2 separate regions of the Homo sapiens genome follow, and region 2 is linked to region 1. The links come from fine-mapping of genetic effects on gene expression. A gene starts in region 1. The other region holds a variant in brackets. All regions are shown on one strand. Distances are between the middles of the regions. Region 1 holds the start of DYNLRB1 (dynein light chain roadblock-type 1). Region 2 has its middle 11 kb from the start of AHCY.

Region 1 (11,362 bases):
CCCTGGAATCAGGAAACCAGACCAGACTTTATAGCCCCAGTACCTCGCATAGGATAGGCTCAATAAATACTGAAGGAACAAATAAAAAGCATTTCTGCAACTATGTTTCACGAAATCAACCTTTTTAAGTACAGGAGGGGGACATGGCCTCACAGTCCACAGTGTGAAAAAGAGCTAAGGTTTAGGTGATCTGAAACTCAACGAGAACCAGATACTAAGATCTGGCTGTTTAAAAGTAAACATGGGCTGGGCACAGTGGCTCATGCCTGTAATCCCAGCACTTTGGGGGACCAAAGCAGGTAGACTGCTTGAGCCCAGGAGTTTGAGACCAGCCTGGGCAACATGGTGAAGCTTCGTCTCTACAAAAGATAAAAAAAATTAACCATGCGTGGTGTCGTGTGCCTGCAGTCCCAGCTAGTTGGGAGGCTGAGGTGAAAGGATTGCCTGAGCCCAGGAGGCCGAGGCTGCAGTGAGCCATGATCGCGCCATTGCACTCCAGCCTGGAAAACAGAGTGTAAGACTCATCAAAAAAAAAAAAAAAAAAAAAAGAAAAAGAAAAAAGAAAGAAAGAAAAAAGAAAAGTAAACACACATCTCACACATCTATCAGGAATGGGAGGACACATAGGTATAATTTCCCTACTCAGCGCCTACTATGGGTCATATATTGCTTTCAGACACATGCTCTCTTCTGAAACTCCCATTCATGGGTTAGTATGATCTCCATGTTAGTGATGGGGAAACAGGTTTGGAAAGGAGAAGGGTTTTGCCCAAGAACACACTGCAGGTCAACAGAAGAGCTGAATATACTGGTGACCACAACTGAGGAGGTCCCTGCCCTCAGGGAGCTCACATTCTGGTGAAAGAGACTTAAACAAGTGAGCAAGATTCTTGCAGGATACAGGGACTAGGCTGTGGGGCAAGGGATGCTACTCTGGCTAATGTGGTCAGGAACACCTGAGGAGATGTAATCTTTTTTTTTTTTGAGATAGGGTCTCACTCTGTCACCCAGGCGTGCCATGGTTCGATCATGGCTCACTGCAGCCTTGACCTCCCAGGCTCAAGTGATCCTCCCACTTCAGCCTCCCGAACACGTGGGACTACTGATGTGTACTGCCAAACCCAGCTAATTTTTTGTAGAGATGGGGTTTCGACATGTTGCCCAGGCTGGTCTTGAACTCCTGGGCTCAAGTGATCTACTGCCTTGGCCTCCCAAACTGTTGGGACTACAGGCGTGAGCCACCATTCTCGGCCATAAGTATGTCATCTTTAAGCCAAGAATCAAATGATGAGAAAGAAATGCACTCTGGGCAATGGGATGATGGAGACAAGGTTCCCCAATTCTCTAGTTCCCAGATGCACATTCCTGACACATGGAAAAACAAGCAGCAATAAAGATCCAGGAGGATCCATTGGCTCAGCATAGGAGGGATGACCACTGGAAGCAAATGACTGACAAAGAACTATGACCAATTTGACCACTAAACATAAAACTTCTGTATAAGAATAACTAATCTAACAGGATAGAAAAGTATTTGCATCAAATATAACAGACAAAATAAATAAAAAAAAAACACAAAATGACTAAGAACAATAGCAAGTCTCTAGTAGGTAGTGCACAAAAGAATACTAGTAGAAAATATGCCTACGAGAAATTACAATCACATCAAACCATGGTCATCATCCCTCACAAACAAATGAAAAATTCAGCTGGGCGTGGTGCTCACACCTGTAATCTCAGCACTTTGGGAAACTGAGGTGGGTGAATCACTTGAGGTCAGGAGTTTGAGACCAGCCTGGCCAACATGGGGAAACCCTGTCTCTACTAAAAATACAAAAATTAGCCGTCATGGTGGCATGGGCCTGTAATCCCAGCTACTCAGGAGGCTGAGGCAGGAAAATTGCTTGAACCTGGGAGGCAGAGTTTGTAGTGAGCTGAGATCGTGCCCTCCAGCCTGGGCAACAGAGTGAGATTCCATTTCAAAAAAAAAAGACAGAAATGAAAAATTATAGCAATGCTGAGGTTTATTTTTAAATGCTGGCATTGTTATTACAAAACTGGCAGGTGCAAGGGCAATACAATCTTGACAAAGCTACAGGACAATATATTGCAAGAACCATAAAAGCACTGGTCCTTCCACCTCAGAAATTATTTTCCTAAGAATTTTATCCTGAGGAAATAATCTAATAAGTAAGTTAAAATGAAACAAAACAAGATATTCACAGAAGCATCATCACAGCACTATTTCTACTAATTAAGAAATGGAAGCAGCCAGGTATGGTGGCTCATGCCTGTAATCCTGGCACTTTGGGAGGCTGAGGCAGGCGGATCACCTGAGGTCAGGAGTTTGAGACCAGCCTGGCCAACATGGCGAAACCCTGTTTCTACTAAAAAATACAAAAATTAGCTGGGCGTCATGATGCACACCTGTTAATCCCAGCTACTCAGGAGGCTGAGGCAGGAAAATCACTTGAACCTGGGAGGCAGAGGTTGCAGTGAGCTGAGATTGAGCCACTGAACTCCAGTCTGGGCAACAGAGTGAGACTCCATCTCTAAAACAAACAAACCAAAAAGAAATGGGAGCAACCCAAATGTACACAGGTAAGATATTTGGCCAATTATGGTACAACTATTTCACCGAGTATTATGTAGTCACTAAGTAGTTAATCACAAAGATGATATGACAACAAGGTTAAATGTTTTTGGATATTAAAACAACAAAAAAAGAAAAAAATCCCCCCAAAACTCAGCATGCATTATCTTGGAAAATATGCATATGTGAACAAAAGAGGAAGGAGAACATACAAAGATGAAAATAGTTATGTGGCACAGTGAAACTGGACGAGGAGAATTATATGTGATTATTTTTTAATTTTATTTATTTATTTTGAGACAGAGTCTTGCTCTGTTGCCCAGGCTGGAGTGCACTGGCCTGGTCTCGGATCACTGCAACCCCCGCCTCCCGGGTTCAAGCGATTCTAGTGCCTCAGCCTCCTGAGCAGCTGGAATTACAGATGCACGGCTTCCGGCTACTTTTCGTATTTTTAGTAGAGACAGAGTTTCACCATGTTGCCCAGGCTGGTCTCCAACTCCTGACCTCAAGTGATCTGCCCACCTTGGCCTCCCAAAGTGCTGGGATTATATGCGTCAGCCATTGTGTCCGGCCAATTATAGATGATTTTTATATCATTATTCTAAAGGTCAGTTTCCACCTAAAATGTAAAATATGCAAGCCAAAAGTGCCACTTGTAGAAATCTATCCTACATAACCACTAGCATGAGTGCAAAAAAGACAAGAACAGTTACTGCAGCAGTGTCTGGAATAAAAAAACTATACACCACCTAAATGTACATATGGGACTAGGATACGATACAGACCTTAAAAAGAATGAAGTGGACCTGCATATAATAACACAGAAAAATGTGTGATATTTTTAAGTGAACAGAACAAGTTGCAGAATAAGATATATACATATATATCTTAAAGTCAACTTCTGTTTTCTCTTATTTTTTTCTCACCCAGGGTGGAGTGCAGTGGTGCAGTCACGGCTCACTGTAGCCTTGACCTCCTGGGCTCAGGCGATCTCTCCACTTCAGCCTTAAAGTAAAGTTAACATATACAAATATATATATATTCCAGTTTCATCTAATAAACAGCTTATACATAAATGTGCTTATGCACCAAACACATCTGGAAGGAAACACACCCAACTGCCAACAGAAGTTGCCACGGGGTAGTAAGATGGGGACCACATAAACTTTCTATATTATATCCTCTGGTACTGCTTCAAATTGTTAACATACATGGTGGTTTACGCCCATAATCCCAGCATTTTTGGAGGCGGAGGTGGGCGGATCACCTGAGGTCATGAGTTTGAGACCAGCCTGGTCAACATGGTGAAACCCTGTCTCTACTAAAAATAGAAAAAAAACCCTGTCTCTACCAAAAATAGAAAAATTAGCCAGGCATGGTGGCATGCTCCTGCAGTCCCAGCTACTCCGGAGGCTGAGGCAGGAGAATCACTCGAACCCGGGAGGCAGAGGTTGCAGTGAGCTCAGATCACACCACTGCACTCCAGCCTGGGCGAAAGGGCAAGACTCTGTTTCAAAAGAAAAAAAAAAAAAGTTAAACTAGGCATCTAAATTTGCATTGCTTTTATGAGTATAACCACGGAGTAGCATAATACAGGTTCTAGAAAGCTACAGTTTAAGTAAGAAAAAGGGGGGCCATATAAGTGCTTGTATAGATGCATAAGAAACTAACAGCTGGGTGTGGTGGCTCACGCCTGTAATCCTAACACTTTGGGAGGCCAACGTGGGTGAATCACTTGAGCCCAGGAGTTCAAGACCAGCCTGGGCAACATGGCAAAACCCCAACTCTACAAAAAAAAAATACAAAAAAATTAGCAGGGTGTGGTGGCGTGCACCAGTAGTCCCAGATACTTGGGGAATTAAGGCAGGAGGATCACTTGAGCCCAGGAGGGTCAAGTTTGCAAGAAAAAAAAAAAAAGAAACTAACAATGGTTGTTTCTAAAGGAGGAGAGACTGAGACTGGGGGTTAGGAGAGTGGGAATTTTATTTTTCACTTAGATCCTTTTACATCATTTATTTTTTTACTGTGTGCAAGTATTACCTGTAAACAATCCTAAAATTCGTATGGAACCACAAAAGACTCAGAAAAGCCAAAAGAAGCCTGGACGAAAAGAACAAAGCTTGAGGTATCACACTACCTGATTTCAAAATATACCAGAAAGGTATAGTAACCAAAAGAGCATGGTATTGGTATAAAACACAGACCAATGGAATAGAATAGAGGACCCAGAAATAAATCCACTTATTTACGGCCAACTGATTTTCGACAAAGGCATCGAAAAAACAAAACAAAACAAAAACAACAACAAAAACGAAAAAAAAAACCTACCATAAATCAGCAATACCACTACTGGGTATTTATTCAAAGGAACGGAAATTAGTACATCAAAGGCATCCCTACATCCTCATGTTCATATTGCAGCACTATTCATAATAGCTAAATTATGGAATTAGCGTCCATCAATAGGTAAATGGATAAAGAAAATGTGGGCCAGGCGTGGTGGCTCACGCCTGTAATCCCAGCACTTTGGGAGGCTGAGGCGAGCAGATCACGAGGTCAGGAGATCGAGACCACCGTGTTGAGGCGGACTAACACGGTGAAACCCCGTCTCTACTAAAAATACAAAAAATTAGCTGGGCGTGGTGGTGGGCGCCTGTAGTCCCAGCTACTCGGGAGGCTGAGGCGGGAGAATCACTTGAACCTGGGAGGCGGAGGTGGCAGTGAACTAAGATGGTGCCACTGCACTCCAGCCTGAGCGACAGAGACACACTCCATCTCAAAAAAAAAAAAAAAAAAAGAAATAATGAATGTTTAAGGTGATGGATATTCTATAATAAATATAGCCTGATTTGATCATTACACATCATATGCATGTATCAAAATATTACATGTATATCTACAACATAAATGTGTACAACTATTATATATCAATTTTTTTTACAGCTTAAGAAGTGATGTGAAAAATGAAGTTATACATATTTGAAGCATTATTACATGTTTGTAATGATGTGGAGATATTGTGGTGTAATAATGAAAAACACAGAACCCACAATTGCACATTCAATAGGGGCTAAACTGTATAAACCAAAAACAAGCAAAAAAGACTAGAAGTCATATGACTACTGTAAGTGGTTGCCTCTAGGTGATGACACGGTTTCTTTTTTCAATTTTTTTATTACAAGCTCTAGATTTCTAAATAAGATTTTTGAAAAAGTAATATATTCACATGGCTTAAAATTTGAAACTTTTTCAAATTTTGCCCAAGCTGTGAGGATTACAAACACAAAACCTGTAACGGCGTTGAGAACCCACAGCTGCAGCAAGCAAGGTAGAAAGCAAGCTTTGGGATCCCCAAGAGCAGACCCCGCCCGTTCCTGACTCTGGCACCCAGTCCCAGCGGCTAGAAAGAACCACGCCGACAGAGTGGCGGCCGTCAAGCTTCTAGGGTTCAAATCCATCTCCACTATTTCCTGGGGCAAAGCACTTGGCTTCTCGGGGCGCTGAATAACAGATATGTATAACAAAATGGGACTAAAGATTGTATCTACCTCACAGAGCTGGGAGGAGGCGGAGGAAATACAAGATACATAAAGTGCTTGGCAGAGCCTGCCACAAACTGAGCTCCCGGGAAACGTTGCCAGGGTTGCCATCGCGCACCAAGGCCCCAAAACTCTAGGCTGCAGGGCCGCCGCCCACCCCTCGCCCATCATCTCTTCCTGGCCGAGGCTGGGCTCCCGCTTCCGGTCAAGGGGCAGCGGGATCCGGCGGCCCCGCCTCGGTCAGGCTTTAGAGGCCTCCGCCGCCGGGTTCCACCCTCAAGTCGGCTGGGGCCCGGGCCCGGCCACGCCCAGCCACCACCGATTCCCTGTCCGGAGCTCTGAGATCCCCTCATCCTCGGAAGACTGAAGGCCTGGCGTGGGGTGGTGGGCGGCCGCCAGCCACAAGACCCCGGCGCACGCTCACCATTTCCGACCGATCCGGTAGCCCCGCGTAGCGAACACTTAGCGAGTCCTGTGCCTTTCTGCGCCTGCGCAAAGGTTTCTGTCAAAACGGACAGCTCTAGCTGCCTATCAGGAGCCAGCGTGAGGCGGGGGCGGGCGAGCCGATCTTGGCTCCGCCAGGATTCTTGGAAAATCTGCTTTCCACTGTGGCAAAGCGAAAAGCTAAGGAGCAGTGCGCTAAGCTGTGGAAAATTCCCAACTCCAGCCGTGCAGAAAAGATGCTGGTTCTGGCTGGACGCGGTGGCTTACGCCTGTAATTCCAGCACTTTGGGAGGCCGAGTCGGAAGGATTGCTTGAGCCCAAGAGTTCGAGACCAGCCTGGGCAACATGGAGAGACCCCTTCTCTACTAAAAAATAAACAAAATTAGCCGGGCGTGGTGGCGCGCTCGTGTAGTTCCAGTTACTCCAGAGGCTGAGGTAGGAGGATCGCCTGACCAGGAGTTCGAGGCTGCAGTGAGCCGAGATTGCGCCACTGCACCCCAGCCTGGGCGACAGAGCAAGAGACCCTGACTAAAACAAAACAAAACAAAAACCATGCTGGTTCTCGGTATCGGAAGAGGCTTTCAGTGCTGGTTCTCGGTATCGGAAGAGGCTTTCAGCTCTCAATGGAGGTCTAAGCTGGTTCTGGAGTCCCTGAGTGGAGCGTGGTGGGAGGGTATGAAGGCAAGTGGGACGGTTGCTGAGACCCGCTTTGCGCCCAGACTGAGCCAGAGAGAGGCCCAGGGCCAAAATGCGCTTCGGGATCGGGCAGGCCTGGGGTGGGGCTGGAGTCAGGTACCTCGAGTCTCCGGGTAAGATGCCGTGCAAGCTCGGAGATGAATTGGTTAGGGCTGGCCTGGGAGTCTTTAGAATCCGAGCTCAGCCCCGCCTCGCGTTACCTAGCAGAAGGCACTTCACATCTGTGTGTTCTGTCTTGTTCTCACCTCTGAAAGGGGGACTCTTCCCAGAGCCCTATGTTGTCCTGTTCCGGCAGGCCGCAAACGTTTCTGGGTCCTCTAGGAGTAAATAACTTCTGTTAAAACATGCTGCCGTTTAGTGAACCCTGTGCCACATTACTGTGCTGAACACGCACATAACGTTATCTCCGGTAGCTTCAGGGAAGTATCGGTAACCTCGATACTTTATAAATGCTGTTTCTCCCAGGCACTGTAGCTTGCTGGATTCAACGATGATCTAACTCCAAAGTTTCATTCCACAGTAGCTGCTCTTCAGTGAGGAAGGATTTGGTTCTCCTTCCAGGAGTGTCTGCATGTTAAGAGGATTGACTTTACTGCGAAGAAACCTAGCAGACACCACCGTAACCAGATCAAAGTTAGTATTACTGGCAAGGGGAGATATTGATGCCGTGTGCCCCGATAAAAATGCGTTAAGGGCACATCACCTCCGAGTCATTTTCCACAAAAACTCCCAGCCTTAAACCATGAGAAAATTTCACTAAATCCAGTGTGAGGGATGTTCTACAAGATACCTGTACCCCGCCCCCGCCCCCCAAAATCTCAAAGTCATGAAAGCAAGGAATGAATGCGGAACTGTCACAGATTAGAGGAGTAAGGAGAAAGAAAAATAACATGGGTGGGAAAATTGGTGAAATCTGAGTAAGGGCTGTAGTTTAGTGTTATTTTTACCAGTGTTAATTTATTAGTTTTGGTAATTCTAGCATGGTTATATGGGATCATAACATTGGAGAAAGCTGGGTGAAGACTGTGCAGGAACTCTTAACCATTTTTGCAACAGCTCTGTAAATGTAAAATTATTTCAAAATAAATTTTTAAAAGGACTGGATCCAAAGGAATTTCTATTGAATGCTGGAAACATTAGGAAAGCATTTAGCAAGGGGAAGAAGTGCTGCAGAGACTGGACCCTAAAACATCCTGGAAGATAAGCACTGGAAGAATCACCACTGTCTTGCCCATGGAGAACCAGACTGAGAGGAGTGAAAGGATTTTAACAGATTACAATCCCAGAAGCAAAAAAGAGAATGGCCAATAGTTCATGTGACAGGAGCCAAAATGAGAATGAAGGAGGAGCTGGAATAGGACCAAGAATGTCCCGGAGTGGCAGGCTTAGAGTTTTGGCCCGGCGCAGTGGCTCACACCTGTAATCTCAGCACTTTGGGAGGCCAAGGTGGGCGGATCACGAGGTCAGGAGTTCGAGACCAGTCTGGCCAACATAGTGAAAGCCCCTCTACTAAAAATACACAAAAAATTAGCCGGGGGTGGTGGTGTGCGCCTGTAACCCCAGCTATTCGGGAGGCTGAGGCAGGAGAATCGCGTGAACCCAGGAGGCGGCGGTTGCAGTGAGCCAAGATCGCCCCACTGCACTCCAGCCTGGGCGACAGAACAAGACTCCGTCTCAAAAAAAAGAAAAAAAAGTTTTATTCTGCGGTAATGGAGAAACCACTGTAAAATTTTAGGTAGAGGAGGCATGAGACAGGTCTTCCACAGATAATCCTGAGGTAGTACAGAAGATATACTGGAGCGAGGAGGATGGAAAAATGAAGACAGGATGCTGTTATGGTCAGCCAGATTAGGGAGGAAGCACGTGGGCTGTGGCAATGTTGTCAGCTCTGAGAGAACGGATTTTTAAAAGTTTTGGGGCCAGGCGCGGTGGCTCATGCCTGTAATCCAAACACTTGGGAGGCCAAGGCGGGCGGATCACCTGAGGTCAGGAGTTCGAGACCAGCCTGGCCAACGTGGGGAAACCCCGTCTCTACTAAAAATACAAAAATTAGCCGTGCATTGGTGATGGGCACCTGTAATCCCAGCTACTAGGGAGGCTGAGGCAGAATTACTTGAACCCGGGAGGTGGAGGTTGCAGCGAGCCGAGATTGCGCCACTGCACTCCAGCCTGGGCGACAGAGCGTGACTCCATCTCAAAAAAAAAAAGTTTTGGGGATAGATAGGATTTGGAGACTAATTAAATGGAATGGCAAAATTGGTCACATTCGACTCCCAGTGTTGTGGTAAGTAGCAGTACAACAAAAATGGTAAAGTATGCATGCTTTAGAGTCAAACCATCCTGGATTCCAGCCTGTATTCTTTCTACTTAATAGTTGTGGACATGATTCAATCATTTTGAGCCTCTATTTTCTTGTAAAACAGAGATAATCATTACCAATAACAGGAAGACTAAGTGACACTGCACATAGCATATCTACCAGTGTCCTGCACATAGTGATAAATGTTGACAGTTGTTTTGGTATTAAATGAATATGGGTGTGGTACTGGTTGCTATGATATGGAAGACAAATAGAACAACAGGTCTGAATTAGAAGAAAAATAACAGGAGGGCTGTTTTTAGTGATCTTTCAAGTATGACTACAAATTGTCAAGGTCCTTCCCTGTGGGGTGCTTTGAGGAAATCCTCTTGTCCATAGCCACTCTTTGCTTATTAACAGACCCCTGTGCATAAGTGATCAACAGTGTCCTTCTGGGATTTATGTTTAAGGCCCTCTTTTCCTTGCCAACCAGGAATATTCCCCTGGCTCCTCACTCCAGATATCCTGATCACAAAGGAGTCCTATGAACATGGAAGAATTGACAACTGAAATGGGCTGGGAGAGAGAGCAGCTCCTGTACTGGAGTTACATAATGTGAGACAGACACTTAAAAAGTCCAGAGAACAGCCAGTCAGTCACAGCTGAGTCCCAGTTTGATGATTTGTAGGGTTTGGGATGAGAGCCAATGGCCAGTAAGAACAATTACTTACTGACCATTGACCCTCACTTAGCGGGGCATATTTTTCCCCTTATTCTAAGCCACAATGAAACTAGAGCATTCTAGCAGCTTCCATTGGACAGAATAAACAGGATAGGGTCTACTAACTACTCAGGACCTGGGAGGGGCCTGCAGTTTTTGTCCTCTAGTCCATGTTAGATCAGCCGTATTAAAAAATTCCTCTTCCCTTAGTCTCTCTCCACTGGTTCTGTTTTAAATGAGAGCATAATCACCTGAGCTTCCTAATAAGACAAAGTTCTACTGACGCTGGTAACCAGGTCAGCTTGTTGAGAACAGTCTTGGTAACAGTCTTGACAGCTAGCTAGTTGGTGGTTCTCTACTCAGCACTCATGCCTGTGGTCCCGGTCTTTTAGTTGTCTCAGAAAAGCAATTCATATGGAGGCCTTTATGTTGGTTGATGGCCCCTGCAGATATCTTCATCTTCAACATGGGCACCAAATCCAGTCTCATCTGCAACAGCTCTTTCTAGTTTTTTTCTACCCGTACCGTGGCAGGCCAGATCTCAATAACGCAGGCCTCCATAACAACTGTTTCAGCACTGAGTGGTTAAGTTAAATATTAAAAGCTGAAAGAGTGAGGGCCCTTATGCAAAGGCTAGAATGTAACAAAAGGCCACCAAGGGTTTTGCCCAGGCCTTTTCTGGGCCTTGAAGCATGACAAGATAACAAAGGAACCCATTTAGGATTAAACAAGTTTTATTGGGGGTCTGAAGGAACTTATTGAGGGGGTCTGAAGGCCTCCACAAACAAGTTTACTGGGGGTCTGAAGGAAGTCCCCAAACCTCCATGATTTAGCAGGAAACAAGATAAGGGTAATCACCCCAGCACCTGGACCCATTTAGATTAAGTAAATTTACTGAGGCTCCAGAGGAAGGTCTTCAGGGCTCAGATCTTATTTATAGATTTAAAAAAGTGAATCACTTATGTCTTTAGATGAATGTACACTCACATGTAGACATATAGCTTATAATGTAAATAAGCTCTGGAAAACTTTGTAGTTTTGAGTTGGTCTTGGGATCATTTCCAGGCTTT
Region 2 (11,362 bases), 200 kb after region 1:
TCTCCTGCCTCAGCCTCCCGAGTAGCTGGGATTACAGTCACTCACCACCACACCCAACTAATTTTTTTTTTTTTTGTGAGACGGAGTCTGGCCCTGTCGCCCAGGCTGGAGTGCAGTGGCATGATCTCGGCTCACTGCAAGCTCCACCTCCTGGGTTCACACCATTCTCCTGCCTCAGCCTCCCAAGTAACTGGGACTACAGGCGCCTGCCACTATGCCCAGCTAAATTTTTGTATTTTTAGTAGAGACGGGGTTTCACTGTGTTAGCCATGATGGTCTCGATCTCCTGACCTCGTGATCCACCCGCCTCAGCCTCCCGAAGTGCTGGGATTACAGGCTTGAGCCACCACGCCCGGCCACACCCAACTAATTTTTGTATTTTTAGTAAAGACGGGGTTTCACCATGTTGGCCAGGCTGGTCTCAAACTCTCAACCTTAAGTGATCCACCCACTTCGACCTCCCAAAGTGTTGGGATTACAGGCATGAGCCACTGAACCTTTTTTTTTTTTTTTTGAGATAGGGTCTTATTCTGTCTCTCAAGCTGGAGTTCAGTGGCATGATCACAGCTCACAGTAGCCTTGACCTCCCGGGCTCAGGTGATCCTCCTACTTCAATTATCTTTACATTAGGTAAAGATTATCTTTACAGGTAGGTGCCACCATGCTTAGATAATTTTTGCAAAGACAAGTTTTGCCATGTTTCCCAGGCTGGTCTTAAACTCCCGGGCTCAAGCAATCTGCCAGACTTGACCTCCTAAAGTGTTGGGATTACAGGTGTGAGCCACTGCTCCCAACCATTTATTGATTTACATCTTCTAGAACCTTGTCACTCCCCCATCAACAGCTAGTTGCTGCACTTTGGATGTTTGTCTTCTCAAACTTTATGTTGAAAGTTGATCTCCAATGTTAGAGGTGGGGCCTAATGGGAGGTATTTGGGTCATGGGGGTGGATCCCTCATGAATGGCATGTTGCCATTCTCATGTTAATGAGGAAGTTCTCGCTCTATTAATTTCCACAAGAGCTGATTGTTAAAAGAACCTGGCACCTTCCCCCTCTCTCCTCCATCCATTCTCTCACCGTGTGATGTCTGCACAGGATGGCTCCCTTTTACCTTCTGCTATGAGTGGAGCAGCCTGAAGCCCTCACCAATCACCAGAAGCAGATGTGGGCACCATGCTTCTTGTACAGTCTGCAGAATCATGAGCCAATAAACTGATACAGCAGGTAGAAAGGAATTATTTAGGCAGATAGTGAGGGCAAAACAGTCCTCTACAGAGCATCCCTTTTAACAAAAAGCAGCTCAAGAAATTATTTTTTTCTAACAAAGAGAAGCCTGAAAAATTGAGCTGCAAACATAGATAAGCAAGCTGGAAGCTTGCATGGGGAAATGCTGGCAGCTGTGCCAATAAAATTGGGCTACCTAGGCACCAGGGATATCCAACAGGGAGGCTCCATCTTTCCTTTGTTATCACGTGTACAGTAAAGGAATGGGCAACATGGGTAACAGGCCAGGCAAAGAACCTACCTGCATAGTAAAAGATAAGGGTGGGGGCTACCAGAAATTTGTGCCCTATGCAAATGGCATACCTGGTCCAACCAATCTTTCACACCCTATGTAAATCAGACACTGTCTCCTCACCAGGCATCTATAAACTCCCTTGCATTTCACCATGGATCTGGCAACCCATTTCTCTGGGACCCCTCTCTCCAGCAGAAAGCTATTCCCTTTCTTCCGCCTATTAAACTTCTGCTCTTAACCTCACTCTTTGTGTGTCCGTGTCCTTTATTTCCTCAGCTGTGAGACAACAAACCTCAGGTATCACCCCCCAGACAACAAGGCTGCTTCAAAACCACTTTTCTTGATAAGTTACCAAGCCTCAGGTATTCCTTTATAGCAACATAAATGAACTAAGACAATAGTGTATGGCCCCTTCTCTTGAACTTGGGTGGGGCTTTGTGACTACCTCAACTAAATATGATGGAAGTGATGCCACATGACTTCAAAGTCTAGGTCATAAATGGTGATACAACTTATGCCTGGCTCTCTCTCTTAGGATGCTTATCCTTGGAACCCTTGGAACCCAGCTACCATGCTGTGTGGAAGCCCAGGCCACATGGAGAATCCACATATCATATCCTTGCTGGAAGCCCCATCTGAGGTCCCAGGTAGCCAGCATCAACTGGCTATCAGGAGATCTTCAAGCTGACTCCAGCCCAGCCACCACCAGACTGCAGCCATATGAGAGACCTTGAGCAAGAATGGCCTAGCTGAGTCCAATCAATGCTCCCTCCCCAAGAAACAAAAGAAATGAATAATAAATGATTGTTGTGGCCAGGCCTGGTGGCTCATGCCTGTAATCCCAACACTTCGGGAGGCCAAGGCAGGTGGATCGTGAGGTCAGGAGTTCAAGACCAGCCTGGCCAAGATGGTGAAACCCCATCCCTACTAAAAATACAAAAATGAACCAGGCACCAGTAATCTCAGCTACTTGGGAGGCTGAGGCAGAGAATCACTTAAACCCGGGAGGCGGAGGTTGCAGTGACCTGACATTGCGCCACTGCACTCTAGCTTGGGTGACAGAGCGAGACTCCGTCTCAGAAAATAATAAATAAATAAATAAATAAATAAATAATTGTTTTATGCCAATAAATATGGGTGGTTTGTTATGCAGCAAAGAATCACTGAGGCCAGGGCAGAGAATTACCCACAATCAGCCTCAGACCATGATGGGGAGGTGATGCCAATCTTTGTCCCTTTCTGGACCCTCTGCTTTTACCCCCAAGGTCCAGGATCTCAGACCACAACTCCCCATGATGGGCTCCTTCATAGCAAGTGAACACCGGCACAGCAATCTCCCTATATGGGCATGAGCTCTCCAGGCCCCAGGCTCTCATCCACAGTTGACTCTGTGGTACTTTAGGCAGGTGCTCATCCCTCAGTTTTCTCTTCTGTAAAATGCACTGTCTGATGATCCCAGCCCTGCCCACTCACACAGAGGCTATGAGGAGCCATCCTTGAAGCTGAAGTTTAAGGGGTTATTGTCAATGTTTGCATTTTAAGATCCAGGTTGGCAACTAGAACCACACAATGTCCTAAAAAGACATTTCAGGACTATCATATTCAGCATTCTATATATTATAGAAGGGGAAACTGAAATATTAATTGTGAACACAGTCCTGGCACTGAATAAATGCTTATGAATATGAGGAGGTGCGAGAAGGGAGAAACAGGCAGCACTGGCCGAAGGATCCAACTCTTATTTCTTGAGAAGCCTCACTACTGCCCTCCTCCTTCTCTCTGCTCCTACGGTTCCCTGCCCATCGCCCCTTCCCCTTTTGGGTTGCCCCTCTGCCCAGGCCTGGAATGGGCACCTGGTGTGAACTCCTGAACTTGGGATGCCAGCCCTGGCTGATTTGCCTCCCTAAAGGCTCACTCCACCATCCTCTCAAGAGCTGTTGCCTTAGAACACTTCCTCCATGTGCTTACAATAAAAGGCATTTGAGAAGAAACCCATGGCTCTCCAAGATGACTCATTTCCTGGGAGGCATTGGAGCCCTGGGGTGCTGGTTGGGATGACCGCCTGAGCCACTCTTGCTGTTGCCCTTAGCACTTCAGCCTTCTCCATATTCTCCACCTCCAAGGCAGGACAAGGGAAACTGAGTCACCAGAGTCACAAGATCAGGCTTCCGCCCCACCTATCTCCCCCATCTTCTCTTCCCCTTTCCATCTGTATTAGACTCCCAGAGCTGCCATTATGAAGTACCACGCATTTGGTGGCTTACAACAACAGAAATTTATTCTCTCACAGTTCTGGAAGCCAGAAGTCCAAAATCAAGGCATTGGCAGGGTGGGTTCCTTCTGGAGGCTCTGAGGAGAGTCTGTTCCCTGCTTCTATCCTGGTTTCTGGTGACTGCTGGCAATCCCAGGTTTCCTTGGCTTGTAGATGCATCACTCAATCTGCTTCTGTCTTCACCGTGTGGTCTTCTCTGTGTCTGTCTTCTTCCCTTTCCTTGTGTTGTAAGGACACTTGATGCTGGATTTAGGGGACACCTTAATCCAGAATTGTCTCAACTCAAAATCCTTAACTTAATTACATCCACAAAGACTTTTCTTCCAAATAAGGTCACATTTGCAGATTCTAGGTGAACATATCCTTTGGGAGGAGGGCCATCATTTAACTCAGAACACCTCTTTTCCCCGTATTTCTGGAATAAGGTAGAAAACCCTCCTAGTTCCTGGAAATTGGCAATTGACAGTGTTAGTGGTTCCTGGAGTAGCCCCTTCCTGTGGATCCTACTCCTGTTTTTGGCTGGATGGGTTCAACTCCATTAGGAAGAGAGCAGGGTATGTGAGGTGGCCTCACTGACATCAGCAATAGGAAGAAGACAAAAGGAGGAGATAGGTAAATCATAAGCAACACAAGAATCCTGCAACGTGAGGACATTGAATGTAGAGGAAAATGACTCAGTTGGTGCTATGCAAATGAGAACCAAGGTTATTTAATGACAACCAATGCTCATTGGGATGATCCTGGTCCACTGAGAAAACTTCAAGTCAGGGATCAACAACCGATATGGGCCAGGGATGGGGACATATGTTGGCCTCGAGAACTTATGCATCATTCAAAGAAGGCAGCTAACATTTAGCTCACCCACCCATTGCTATGACAACATAAGTCTAGTTGCTAGATAATTTTCTCAAGAGAAGCTGGAAATATGGGGCTCCATGCAAACTCCCCCAGTTTTTATATTTATTTATTTATTTGAGACAGAGTCTCGCTCTGTCGCCCAGGCTGGAGTGTAGTAGCATGATCTCTGCTCACTAAAAACTCCACCTCCCAGATACAAGTGATTCTCCTGCCTCAGCCTCCCAAGTAGCTGGGATTACAGGCGCCCGCCACCATGCCTGGCTAATTTTCATATTTTTAGTAGAGATAGGGTTTCGCCATGTTGGCCAGGCTGGTCTTGAACTCCTGACCTCAGGTGATCCTCCTGCCTCGGCCTCCCAAAGCGCTGGGATTACAGGCGTGAGCCTCTGTGCCCAGCTATTTTGTCCCCACTTTCTTACTCTGCCATGACTTTGCAAATGTGATTCCCACACCTGCACAGTTCTCTCTCTACCTGACTCATTTTGAAGACTTTGGTGGACGCCTCTTCCTCTGAGAGGTTTCCACAGCCCCTAGGCCTAGTGAGTCACCCTCTCCCTCCACCTTGGACTCTCTGCTCTGACCTGCCCTGGCATCCATGATCTGTGTCGTGAACATTGGTGAGTCTTTTTTCCCCACTGGCTAGGAAATTCCTTGAGAGCAGGGCCCAGGTCTGAGTCATCTGTGTTGCCTGCCCTGAGTGGGCAGTTAACAATGTTTGTGGGATCAATGGAAGGGAAGAGGAAGGGAGTGGTGTCACAAACAGCTCTCAGATTACTAGCTGAATCTTGGGCTCCAGGTATCTGGCAGTTAAAGCACAGGTCAATGTTATAGGGATGATCTTAGCCGGATGTGGTGGCTCACGCCTGTAACCCCAGCACTTTGGGAGGCCAAGGTGGGAGGATCGCTTAAGCCCAGGAGTTTGAGATCAGTATTGGCAACATAG[T/C]GAGACCCTTACTCTACAAAAATTTTTTAAAAAATAAAAAGAGCTGATTTTTGTCTAACCTAACAGAGTGTGTGCAAAGGTGAGGGTCTGAATATGTGTGAGTACTTGAGAATGTGTGAATGTATGTATGAAGTGTATGAGTGTGGATATACATGTGTGTGTGTTTGAGACGGAGTCTCGCTGTGTCGCCCAGGCTGGAGTGCAGTGGTGCGATCTTGGCTCACGGCGACCTCTTCCGCTGGGTTCAAGCTATTCTCCTGCCTCAGCCTTCTAAGTAAGTAGCTGGGTCTACAGGTGTGTACCAGCATGCCCCGCTAATTTTTGTATTTTTAGTAGAGACGGGTTTCACCATGTTGGCCAGGCTGGTCTCGAACTCCTGACCTTCAGTGATCCACCTGCCTTGGCCTCCCAAAGTGCTGGGATTACAGGCATGAGCCACCGCACCTGGCCTTATTTCTGTAGTATGTATGTACATAGGTGCATGAGCATGAGTATTCGTGTGTGATGGTGGGATGTGTGAATGAGTATGTGTTTGAAGGTTTGTATGGATGTATCTGTAGGTGTAAACATGTTCACTGAATGGAACTCCATGGGAGCAGGGACTTTGTCTTGTCCTGTTTTTTTGTCCTTGCCTCTAGCACACTCAAATGAACATGTCTGGCATGGGGGTTGCAGCAGGGAGCATGATTGCAGGAAGGGTAGCCCAGTGGTTACCAGCAGCGACTCTGGAGTCAGACAGCATTGGTGCTTCCTAACTGTGGGCAAATCAACCACTAGGAGCCTCAGTTTTTCCATGTGTTAAATGGGTACCTACCTTATAGGGTAGCATCTATAAAGTAGGGCAACATCTACCTTACAGGGAAGTTCAAAGAGCTTAGAATTGTGTGTGGAGCATTGGATATAATAAATTTGGACTAGTATCATTATCCTGGGTGTCACTGTCAACACCCAGCAGTCCCAACAATGTGGCTTATGCCTGTAGTCCCAGCACTTGGGAGGCCGAGGTGGAAGGATTGCTTGACCCCAGGAGTTTGAGACCAGCCTGAGCAACATAGTGAGACTTTGTCTCAAAAAAAAAAAAAAAAAAAAAAAAAAAAAGCTGGATGTGGTGATGCATGCTTGTAGTCCCAGCTACTGGGGAGGCTGAAGCAGGAGGATTGCTTGAGCTCAGGAGTTTGAGGCTACAGTGATCTCTGATGGTGCCATAGCATTCCGGCCTGAACAAGAGTGACACCCTGGCTCAACAAAACAGAACAGAACAAAAACATCCCGACAAATGCTTCCAAGGGCTAAAGCCCCTTCAAAACAAGTCCAAAGACCACTTACTAGCAACATTCATTGCTCTTCTCTGAACCTCAGTTTCTTCCTATGGGAGGGAGCGATAAGCTGTACTTTGCTTTCTCCCAGGGCAGCTGGGAGGTTATCATCACAGCGCTCCAAATCCTGCCCCTGGAGGGAAGAGTTTGCACTGCAGCAGTCTGAAGCCAAAGCTGGGAGCAGGGTGCCCTCTCCTGGCACAGTGGAGTCAAGGGCGACTCCAGCTGCAGGGCACAGGCTGACCTCGGAGGTCCAGGGGTGCTATCCGCAAAGGAAGGTGGGCAAAATGGAGCCGTCTGGGGAGGGCACCTTACAGCTCCCTACTCTTGCAGCGTGGAGCCCGTGCTCCCTTTCTGTGGACTGAGCTCCTCTGCCTCAGATCTCGCTCCAAGGACGTCTCCCACCCTGCCCCCGCCCCGTCAGACTGGACCAACCCCCCACTCCTCCCCATTACAAGTTCTCAGAGTGTTCCTTTTGCTTTTCTATCATCTGAGAAATGAAGGGCAGGGGCAGAACCCCTGGCTGTGTGACTCCTAAGGTCCCTGGACGAGGCTCTTAGCAAATATTAGGATAAAAGGGGCGTGGAAGCTCAGACAAGGCTGGGAAGTGAACCCAGAGGCCATCCAGCCCCACTGGGGAACGATCCAGCCTCAGCGGGGGACGTCAGAGACCTGGATTAGGGGACTCCCTGGCTCCACCCTGAGGAGAGCCAGGACTGTGGGCTGAAGCCAAGGGGCACCACAGCGTGGGTTCCGGGGCAGACATCTGGGAACATTAATTCATTCCCAAATATTGTGTGCAGTCTGTGTGCCAGGCACTGAGCTGGACCCTGGGGACACAGCAGCTGGCAAAGCCATACAGGTTTCTGTCCCTCCTGGAAGTAATGGGACAGGCACATAATCAGATGATTTCGATATAATGATATAGAACCACACCACCTCACATCCCCCTTTCGGGGTGCCTCTTAAAGCCTGTCGCTTAGAGATGGCCCGCGGCTAGGGAGGGGCGCTCTCTTATATTCTACGAGTCTGGAGGGCTCCCCCAACGGAAGAAACCCGCGGATGGGTGGGCCGGCAGCTCCTGGGACGCCCGACTCACAGCGGAGCCGCGTGGGATGAGAAGGATTGAGGGAGAGAGGGGGGCCCTGTCCCAGGGTCTCTAAGAAGTCCCCCACCTCTGTACTCCCCAGCCCAGCGGTGACTTCGAGGTGGGCCCAGGGGGCCTGGAGGGAGGGGCGTGGATACAGCGGGAAAGGAGAGACCCCTAGCGGGGTGGACAAGAAGGGAGGAACTCCACAGAACTGCTTAATCCGGCTCCATCCCCATCAGCGGGCTTTCTCAGCGCCTGCACCCCTCTCTATCCCATCTCGAAGCCTCCAGTTAATCCAGAGTGAGACGCAGGACCGCCGGGAGGCGAGCGGGGATGCTGAAGCTAGGGCAGGCTAAAGCCCCGCGGCCAAAGGGCAGGCTTGTGCGCCCTCCGCCCCCTCTCCGCCCCCTCTCCGCCCCTCCGCGCCCAGGACCTAATTGTTTGCAAAAGCAAACACGGAAAAGGCAGGTACAAAGGTCGGGAGGAGGGACCGGGACCTGCTTCTGCCTGGGGTTTCGACCTTCCCGCCAGAAGCTCCACTGGGGCCTGGACCTGGAGAAGGGACATCAACAGTTAACGTCCAGGGCAGCTTTCAGCGGCGTGGGCGGGGATCCCCAGGGAAGCACTGTTAGCAGTTTCTTGTACATCCAGCCTGGTATATTTTCTGCATGTATAGGCAAATACCTGTTTGTGTGTTCTTTTCTTTCTTTTACATAAATAATCGCATACTAGGCGCACCGTTCTGCACTTTGCTTTTTGTCCTTCATTATATGTTTTGTTGTTGGTTTTGTTGTTGTTGTTGTTTTGTTTGTTTTTTAGACAGAGTCTCACTCTGTTGCCCAGGCTAGAGTGCAGTGGCACAATCTCGGCTCACTGCAACCTACCGGGCTCAAGCGATTCTCCTGCCTCAGCCTACTGAGTAGCTGGGATTACAGGTGTGTGCCACCACGCCCGCCTAATTTTTGTATTTTTAGTAGAGATGGGATTTCGCCATGTTGGCCAGGCCGATCTCGAACTCCTGACCTCAGGTGACCCGCCCGAATCAGCCTTCCAAAGTGCTGGGATTACAGACATGAGCCACCACGCCCGACTGTCGTTTTTTTAAAATACGGACAGGGTCTCGCTTTGTTGCCCAGGCAGAGTGCAGTGGCGCTTAGGCCTCAGGCTTGGGCCATCGCACTGGGCCACCATATCTTGAAGATCATTCTATATTGTTAGATAAACAGCTCATTTAAACAAAAAAATGGCTATCTGCATATTCCATCATGTGGACTGTACCAATATTTATTTAACAAGTCTTCCATGGAAGGACAGTCTTTTGTTCTTAACGTCATTTTGCTCATGTGTACAAACATCTTTGGAATAAATTCCTAGAAGTGGAACTGCTTGGTCAAAGGGCATGCGGGTTTGTAATCTTGTTAGTTATTACCAGAGTGTTGTTCATTAAGGTTGTGCCAATGTACAATCCCAAAACCAAAGTATGAGGAGGCCTGTTTCCCCACACTCTTACCAATAGTATGTTATTAAACTGTAAACTTTTTATCCATGTGATAGTAAACTTAAAAATAAAATTAATCAGCCGGGCATGGTGGCTCACGTCTGTAATCCCAGCACTTTGGGAGGCCAAGGCAGGTGGATCACGAGGTCAGGCGTTCAAGACCAGCCTGGCCAACATAGTGAAACCCCATCTCTATTAAAAATAAAAATAAAAATAATTAGCTGGGCGTGGTGGCAGGCGCCTGTAATCCCAGCTACTTGGGAGGCTGAGGCAGGAGAATCGCTTGAACCTGGGAGGTGGAGGTTGCAGTGAGCCAAGATCGCGCCACTGCATTCCAGCCCGGGTAACAGTGTGAGACTCTGTCTCAAAAAAAAAATTCATCATTCAATTTCCCCAAGCCACATAGGGAGCCTGGACTTTCACCCCCAACCTGGCACTAAGAAGGCACCCCTCCACCTCCATGGTTCTTCTATTGTTTCCTTCCTTCCCTTCCCTCCCTCCTTCCCTTCCTTCCTTCCTTCTTTCCTTCCTTCCTCCCTCCCTCCTTCCCTCCCTACCTCCTTTTCTCCCTCCCTCCTTCCTTCTGTCCTGCTCCTCCTCTCTCTTTTCTTTTCTCTTTTTTCTTTCTTTAATTAATTAATTCACTTATTTATTTTGAGACAGAGTCTTGCTCTTGTAGCCCAGGCTGGAGTGCAATGGCACGATCTCGGCTCACTGCAGCCTCCCCTTCCTGGGTTCAAGCGATTCTCCTGCCTCAGCCTCCCAAGTAGCTGGGATTACAAGTGCCTGCCACCACGCCCGGCTAATTTTTGTATTTTTAGTGGAGACAGGGGTTTCCTCTTGAAATCCTGACCTTGTGATCTGCCAGCCTCGGCTTCCCAAAGTGCTGGGATCACAGGCATGAGCCACTGTGCCTGGCCTAATTTTTTATTTTAAGAGAGGAGGTCTTGCTGTTAATATATTGCTCGGGCTGGCCTTGAATTCCTGGGCTCCAGCGATCCTTCCAACTCACAAGTAGCTGAAGTTACAGGGCGCACCAAAACTCCTGGCTCATTTTCATTATTAATGATAAAAGGTCAATCCACTAAGAAAACATAGCACTCCGAAGTGTGTATGTATGGAAAACAGAGCTGCAAAATATGTGAAGCAAAAACTAATAGATAGAAATAGATAAATCCGGCCAGGCGTGGTGGCTCACGCCTGTAATCTCAACACTTTGGGAGGCCAAGGCAGGTGGATCACTTCAGGTCAGGAGTTCGAGACCAGCCTGGCCAACATGGTGAAACCCTGTCTCTACTAAAAATACAAAAATTAGCCGGGTGTGGTGGTGCATGCCTGTAATCCCACTTATTTGGGAGACTGAGGCAGGAGAATCACTTGAACTCAGGAGGCGGAGGTTGCAGTGAGCTGAGAGTGTGCCACTGTACCCTAGCTTGAGCAGCAGAGGGAGACTCCATCTCAAAAAAAAAAAAAAAAAAAAAATTGGCCAGGCGCAGTGGCTCACGCCTGTAATCCCAGCACTTTGGGAGGCCGAGGCAGGCAGATCACCTGGGCTCAGAAGTTCAAGACCAGCCTGACCAACATGGTGAAACCCCGTCTCTACTAAAAATATAAGAATTAGCTGGGCATCGTGGTGGGTGCTTGTAATCCCAGCTACTCAGGAGGCTGAGGCAGGAGAATCGCTTGAACCCGGGAGGCGGAGGTTGCAGTGAACAGAGATCGCACCACTGCACCCCAGCCTGGGTGACAGAGCAACTCTCTGTGTCAAAAAAAAAAAAAAAATTGCCAAATTAATTACCCTTCAGAAATTTGGTTCCTAGTCTTGATACTCTCCAAAATTGGGTATAATTATGGATTTCAAATAC

The links.
Region 2: its variant is fine-mapped to the expression of DYNLRB1 in whole blood (TOPMed, PIP 0.96).

What each region holds. Positions count from the first base shown.
Region 1 is chr20:34,511,656-34,523,017 of GRCh38, reverse strand. DYNLRB1 (dynein light chain roadblock-type 1) reads right to left here and starts at 6,596. Exons shown (of 4, transcript NM_014183.4): 1 at 6,557-6,596. The coding sequence starts at 6,559. It overlaps ITCH (itchy E3 ubiquitin protein ligase), which reads right to left. Exons shown (of 25, transcript NM_031483.7): 25 at 11,245-11,362. RefSeq lists enhancers at 1-80, 6,065-6,244, 5,911-6,776, 7,165-7,404, 7,515-7,574 and silencers at 6,595-6,704, 10,040-10,334.
Region 2 is chr20:34,308,573-34,319,934 of GRCh38, reverse strand. It overlaps a transcript of AHCY not described here. Among named protein-coding and RNA genes, the nearest start is that of AHCY, 11 kb to the right of the region's middle. RefSeq lists an enhancer at 7,739-8,337. The variant T/C (reference allele first, on the strand shown) is at 5,594.